2 linked regions of the Homo sapiens genome follow. The protein of the gene in region 1 purifies or fractionates together with the protein of each later gene. This does not show direct contact. Each region holds a gene or a part of one and is shown in the gene's direction. Other genes may lie near its edges.

The links.
Region 2: the proteins of NDUFAF2 (region 1) and SON fractionate together in Homo sapiens (co-fractionation; one large-scale study listed by BioGRID). This does not show direct contact.

What each region holds. Positions count from the first base shown.
Region 1 is NC_000005.10:61,098,639-61,102,467, forward strand, and holds part of NDUFAF2 (NADH dehydrogenase [ubiquinone] 1 alpha subcomplex assembly factor 2), read left to right. Parts: intron 1-353; coding exon 354-394; intron 395-3,829. UniProt on the Homo sapiens protein: Acts as a molecular chaperone for mitochondrial complex I assembly. Complex I functions in the transfer of electrons from NADH to the respiratory chain. The immediate electron acceptor for the enzyme is believed to be ubiquinone.
Region 2 is NC_000021.9:33,556,265-33,560,093, forward strand, and holds part of SON (protein SON), read left to right. Parts: intron 1-891; coding exon 892-1,052; intron 1,053-1,281; coding exon of another isoform or gene 1,282-1,287; exon of another isoform or gene 1,288-2,802; intron 2,803-2,965; coding exon 2,966-3,112; intron 3,113-3,322; coding exon 3,323-3,511; intron 3,512-3,612; coding exon of another isoform or gene 3,613-3,829. UniProt on the Homo sapiens protein: RNA-binding protein that acts as a mRNA splicing cofactor by promoting efficient splicing of transcripts that possess weak splice sites.

The sequences.
Region 1 (3,829 bases):
TTTGCTGTATTTTGGTTTGGCTTGTATGCCATAAATATACCCAGTCGAATTTAGATGATTAGGAGGTATGATTTTAAACATATGAAACTGTCCCCTCTTTATCTTCTCTACACTATTATATTCTCTTCATGACACATATCACCACCAACCATATGTTTGTGTGTTTATTTTCTGCAACCCCTTCAGTAGTACATGTGCTACAGTAGAGAAGGGACTTAATCTGTTTTATTCCCTGCTGTATCTCCAGTACCTAAAATAATATGGAGTAGGTACTCAAAAAAATTTGTTTTATGGATAAAAATGTTTGTGTAAATTATGGGAAACTGACATTTAAATATTATTTTTCTTTCTAGCTTGGATTAGAAGAACAAGAAAGACTCCACCTACTATGGAGGTAAGACTACACAAGGAGGATATCATTTAGGAGTATATATTCCCAAGGATATACGAAGCTTCAGAAAAACTATGATGTATTTTCTCAAAGTGTTGATTTTATTCCATCACAGAAAATAACTTAAAACATTTTATAATAAATTAATATATAAACCTATATTATTAATAAAATAATATATGATAAAATAAATGCTCATATTATGGAATATAACAAAATTTGTATAAATTTTAAAGTGAAATAATAAAAATTTAAAACAAAATTAAAACACTCTGTAGAAAGTCTGAACTTGGAGCAGTTTGCACCAGGTTATTTCCCCTGGGCCCTGGGGGTTCTCTGTGCCAATACTCAAGCTTTTGTGGAAAAGTTTGAGAAACACTGAATCTCTTTGTCTTGTCCAAATCATGCTCTTATGTTTCCCTTAATATTATGTATTTAAATCCATCAAGTATCCAAAGAAACTTTAAAATACAGAATTAGCAATTATTTTATAACAGTAATTATTAGTTGACTTTTTATTTAAAACTAAAAAATTTGTAGTCAGTGATAAACAATAAAAAAACATAGAAATGCTATGGTATATATGTTTTACAATATAATTTTTATATAGATTATTTTATAAAAATTATAATTTTAATTTTAAAAATATGTAAAGACCTCTAAAGTTATTTTATAAGAAGTAATTTCATAAAAGGAGAGTCTCTAAATGCATTAGTGTACTGCCTTGTTTACTTTTTGTCTAGAGGCATTCCCTTTCTTCTACTATTTAGGACTTCCCTCCTCTCTTCTGTTGCCTATTCTGTCACTACTACAAGCCCTGATGACAACATAAATGGGCTCCGGTACTCAATCCCCATTTGTTGGGAAGTGGAGTGCTCTAGAGCAGGATAATGATGATACCTCAACTGGCATGCTTATGTTTATTTGCTCCATACATTTGTCATATACTGAACCCATTAATGTTCATTCGGCCAGGGTCTGACTGAGTACATCTCTTGACCCATTTCTAGCTTTGTATGTTGCTTCTGCCTTGGCCTACTTTTCGCAGACCCTTCTTTCCAACATTGATAAAATTTGGAATAAAAGCTGTTTTGGGGGGAAAAAATAAAAGGCAATATGATCCAGGATTCAGAAGTATGCCCAGTAGTTTACAGTGAAGGATGGATTGAAGAGCCTTCTGATTCTCCTTCTCTTGGTCATAATAAGAGCTACTGTTATCATTTGCTTCATCCATCCTCAGAACTTTGAAAGCCTTATTCATAGAAACATTAATATGCAAAGTGATTAATGGAGGCAATTGCAATAGTTGGGCCTCAGGCACAACTTCTGTAAATTTTAGGTAATTTCAGCACCTCAAACAATCTCTAGCCAGAACACACCAAGTCCTTCCATCCCTGAGCTCACTCTTGTTAATTTTGATTATCCAAAATGAGCCCTCTTTTGTTGCCTCCCTTTAAGTGTACTATCAATCACATTGTTCTTTATGCTGCTTCGTACCCTCCCTAATACACACACACACACACACACACACTCTTTTCCTTCCTCTTGGCCCTTTCCATTGTGTTTCAGGAATTTCTGTTTCTTTGTTAGCAAATTACCATTCACCATTAATATTTTCCTGGAAACTTTCTCTACCACAGAACCTCAACTGAAATCCGTCTGTGCCTGCAAGATAGTGAGTTCCTTTTTTTCCTTGAAGTAAGTTGTGCTCGCTTTCCCACGCCCCACATAAAGAAAGTGAGTTCAACTGCTTCTTGCTTCCCCAAATAGTCTTTGTTTGTGGACCCAAGAGAGTGGAGGACCTTTGTAATCCATGTGTATTTCTCTGTACCTGACCATCATTTTTATGTTTGCCAACATCCAAGCCAGTCTACCTTACTGATGGTCGAGATTAGAACCTGGAATATGGTCTTCTCCTTTCAATGCTTTCCCAAATTTTAGCTTTCCAGTTCTTTGACTTCATCCATACTAGTATCCCTGCCTCAAGTGAACAACCACTTCATTAGGCACACTTTAGTTTTTATCAAACACAGTTCTTACCACTGTAACTTTTACACTCTTCAAATCCAAATTCTAGATACATCATATTAAGAGGAAAAAATTTTTCTTAATGTAAAGTAAAACATATATTTATAAACCGTAACAAAAAAATAGCTTATTTAGTTATTAAGCTGTGAAATTATAAGGCAAATTCCACCCAGGTCAAGAAACACAACTTTGCCATCTACTTCAGCCCCATATATCCCATCCTAATCACAACCTTCTCTCTCTTGACAAAAGAAAACCTTAAGCCAACTTTTATAGTAATCATTTCCTCTCATTTTAAATAGTTTTTTCACCTAAATGTACATTATAGTTTAGACTTGTCCATTTCGTAAAAACTTCGTATTTGTTTTAAATCTTTCAGTCTATCCTCTTCCATTTCTTTTACTTCCTTAGAAATTTATGTGTTAAAATACCCAGCCCAGTTGGCCTACAGAATTTGCCACAGTCTAGATTTTGCTGATCTTATGTTCCTGGTGCACTTCATCATGTTCCTCTGTCCACTGTTTTCCTTCCAAGTTGACAACTGGATCCAGAAACTAGATTTTTTTTCCAGATCTTTTAGTGAATACCCAACTCCAAATAAACTTTCTTTCATATCTCCTATATATTATTGCTAAAGGTTAGCCAGCAGCCATTAGAATGTCATTTACAACAGTATTAGAAAACATAGAATACTGTGGAATTTAGTGAGCAAAACATGTGCAAGATCTGTGTACTCAAAACTACAAAATGTTGGTAAGATACATTAAATAAGACCTAAATAAATGGGGAGAAGTATCTGTTCATGGATTGGAATGTACAATATTGCTAATGTATTCATTCTTCCCAAACTGATCCACAGTAGTTCTTATGCTTTTATTTTGCATCTGCATCACCTGAAAGACTTGTTAAAACACAGATTGCTGGACCCCAAGCTTAGAGTTTTTGATCCATTAGTTTTGAGGTAGGGCCTGAATATTTGCATTTATAACATGTTGCTGGATGATGCTGATGCTGATGGTTCATAGCCCATATTTTGTGAACCACTGATTTATAGATTTAATAAAATGAATATCCAGTTAAAACCATGTCAGACTTTTTTGATAGAAATCAACATGCTGATTTGAAAATATATTTGGAAATGTAAAAGACCTAGAATAGCTGAAAGCAGCCATGAAAAAGGAGATGAAAATTAAAGGGCTAATACTGTCTGACTTTAAGAATTACTTTAAAACTATAGTTATCTAGACAGTATGATACTGGCATTAGGATACTGGGTAAATAAATCAATGGAAAAAACAAAAGTCCAAAAAGTAGATACTGTACAACCAGTTGGTTTTTAACAATGACATCAAAACAACACAATTAGGAATGGAAAGTCTTTTTAGCAAATGGTTCTGGAATAACTTAATA
Region 2 (3,829 bases), on another chromosome or scaffold:
GGTAAAATGCATATATGTCTCTCTTATAGTAACACTGTCTAAAAAGGACAGAATGTGATTACTATAATACTGATAGAGGTGAGGTACTTTAGGAACACAATGGGAAAAGGGGAAAAGGAATGTTAATTCTGACTTAATGACAGCTTGTTAGAAGAGGTGGCACTTCGGCTGGGCATGGTGGCTCATACCTGTAATCCCAGCACTTTGGGAGGCCGAGGCAGGTGGATCACCTGAGGTCAGGAGTTCGAGACCAGCCTGGCCAATGTGGAGAAACCCCATCTCTACTAAAAATACAAAAAATTAGATGGGTGTGGTGGCACGCGCCTGTAGTCCCAGCTACTCGGGAGGCTGAGACAGGAGAATCACTTGAACCTGGGAGGTGGAAGTTGCAGTGAGCCAAGATGGCGCCACTGCACTGCAGCCTGGGCGACAGAGTGAGACTGTCTCAAAAAAAAAAAAAAAAAGAGGTGGCACTTGAACTGGGGCTCAAAGAGTGATTTAAGGTGTCAGAAGGAGAGTAAGGTCATGATAATTTTGTGAAATGAAATAGGCTTTGGCAGGTTTATATCTTAGAGTGTGTGTAGTAGGGTGATCATTATAGTTGTGTAGTAACCTATTGTAATATTCTAATGGGAAGCTCAATATGTGGACTTAATTCCCTGAATGAGGCCACTGCTGAAAAACTTTGAGCCAGTGGTTTGATCATAGCTGTAACTTAGAGCAGAATATTGATGCCTATAGTTTTTTCCTTTTTTTTTTTCTTTTTTGTTAGATACCCAAGTTCTTCGATGGATCTAGGATGCCTTTAGTTTTGTTAGTATGTTAGACTTTTGGTAATACAAAATGTACAGTCTTTTAGGAAAACTGCAGCTTGTATTTTTCTTCTTACAGATAAGGCTCAATTACTTGAAATAGCCAAAGCTAATGCAGCTGCCATGTGTGCTAAGGCTGGTGTCCCTTTACCACCAAACCTAAAGCCTGCACCTCCACCTACTATAGAAGAGAAAGTTGCTAAAAAGTCAGGAGGAGCTACTATAGAAGAACTAACTGAGGTAAGCTAGACAGAATTTGTTTTCATTCTTAAATGGATTATTCCAGTGATGTTGACTCTGGAGCGTGCCAAAACCCGAATTGTGGGCAGAACTGATAATGGCTGGCACCGAGTGGCCAAAACCCGAAATACAGATGTGGCAGCGGCAGAAGCTCTGTTTAGCAGGCCATTATCCGGGATGGCTAAGCTCCGCTAGCTAAAAGTTACTTCCCATTACTTTTGCTTTCCAGTTTTAGAAGCCAAACTGACTGAGGAGTGGGACGGTTCGTTTGAATGGAGGAGGTGTTGAGTGAGCAACACGCAGAAGCTCGCCTACAGTTTCGTTTCCATTCACGACGCGTTCACTGATCGCCACGAGTATACTGCATATACGCAAAGACACAGACAATCTTCAGAAATGATCTTTTGCCACCGGAGCTTGGAAATTAATAAGAATAGCTGGCCATTGCCTGAAAGGAACTTCTTTCGCATCAACATTTCGGGTTTTGGCTGTTTGGTACCAGCCATTGGCGATAATGGCCGGCCATTATCAGTTCTTCCTGCGGTTCGGGTTTTGGCAGTAACATATATATTTTAAACACACTTATTTTTGTTTTTAAAAGTTTGATCTTTTCAATTGAGGCTTTTTTGGGGCTTTGTTTTATTACTATTTTTTTGGTGTGGGTGGATGGGGGGAGATGCTAAAATATTGCTGCTAGGATCCAGAAATACCACACTGTTTCATATATTGGAACTTGTTATTGGCTAGCCTTATGCCAGCCTGCCACTGTCAATATATTCTGTTCCCCTTGGTTACAAGCTTAATATACTCTTGTGTTTTTGGCGAAATGAGCTTTTTATCCTATTGTAATATTTTCAATTGATAATAGATGTCATTAAATCTACTGCTTGTATAGAGACAGGTGTACCCAAATTTACTCTTGACCTTTTTATAAAGCCAGGTAATGGAGTCTGTTCCTTTGCATCTCAGGAAGGAATTGACTTTGCTTTATGTATCAGACCTCATCAATTGCACCCTCTCCATCATGCCTTATTTTCCTAAGTTCTCCTTAAAGAAACTCAACCCACAAAACATTTATGGAGAGACATGTTGCTATCTAATCCTGTTGCAAATATTTCAGATCTTTTGTTTTGCCATACATCTGGGAAAATGTAAAGCTTCTGAATCTGTTTCCTCACTTAGATTTATTACAATATGAATTACAACTTTTTTTAAAAAATTAAGGACCTTGTAAACGCTTCTATTGCTTATTTACCTAATCCAAGCTCCTTATCCAAAATGCTAAGGACAGTTAGTATTTTGCTGTTTTCGGCCCCATCTTCAGCCTTCTTGTCCCAAGTTTCTTCTCACCTTTTTACCACCACCTGACTAGGATGACTTCTCCTTTCCCTACCAGTCTTTGTTCTTTACTATGAAAATCTGGCTTAGAACTCTTCAAGGAATATTCCTTGATTCTCTAACTCTGCCTGACTATTCTCTCTTAAGCCTTTGTTCTTTTAGCACTTATGTACTCAGTTTGTATTATATCAGTTTGCACTTGTTATTGTGTTGCTCTGTAAAAGTGTTCAATTATTTCATGTATATGTATTCCTTCTCTTGTACTAGATTGTAAGCTCCTTGAGAGCAGGGACCATGTCTTCTACTTTTTTTTTTTTTTTTTTTTTTTGTATTCCCCAGACAGTGCCCAGTACAGTGCTCTCTCTGCACATAGTAGGTGCTCAATAAATGTTGTTGACTGACTGACCAGCCAGAGTGTGTTTAAATAGTAGTTAATATGCCAAGTTACGTATCTATAACCTATCATGAATCTTGTTTAACTTTGGAAAGTTGCTATTATGTGGTTTTGATTCTAAGAAATTACATGTTCTACATAAAGCGTAAGATTTATCTTTTGTTTGTTTTTACTTTTAAAGAAATGTAAACAGATCGCACAGAGTAAAGAAGATGATGATGTAATAGTGAATAAACCTCATGTTTCGGATGAAGAGGAAGAAGAACCTCCTTTTTATCATCATCCCTTTAAACTCAGTGAACCCAAACCTATTTTTTTCAATCTGAATGTGAGTATTAGTGCTTATGGATTGGTAAAACAGTGTAACTTGTGGAACTATTTAAATAAAACCCAAATCGAATTTAGTTTATTAATTTTTGTTTTAAATACTGTGAGAAATAATGGATAATATCATTTCCTTCAGATTATGTAGAAAATCTCAAACCATTTAATGTAGATATCATATTGAGCTTTAATTAAGAAACACTTTATTTTTTAGATTGCTGCAGCAAAACCAACTCCACCAAAAAGCCAGGTAACATTAACAAAAGAATTCCCTGTATCATCTGGATCTCAACATCGGAAAAAAGAAGCGGATAGTGTTTATGGAGAATGGGTTCCTGTGGAGAAAAATGGTGAAGAAAACAAAGATGATGATAATGTTTTCAGCAGCAATTTGCCCTCAGAGGTAAGTAGGAGGAATATTATGTATTTTTCCTTTTTTATACCTGAATCTGCCATTTCATTGTTATGTTATGTCTGATTTGGATTCTGTTTCACTCTTCTTAGGGCCGGGTTAAACGGCAGGGCCGGGTTAGACGACAGATGAAACAACCCGCAGCTTCTCATTTGACAGTAACTCGATGCAATTCACTTTGTGGAACCAAGCCACAAAGTGAAAAGCATCGAATTGCAGAGAACAGTGTTATCACATCCCTACCCAACATTGGGCCCTCCCTGCACTTGTGGGAAGGTAGTCCAAGGTACAACTATTTAGCTTCCCGAT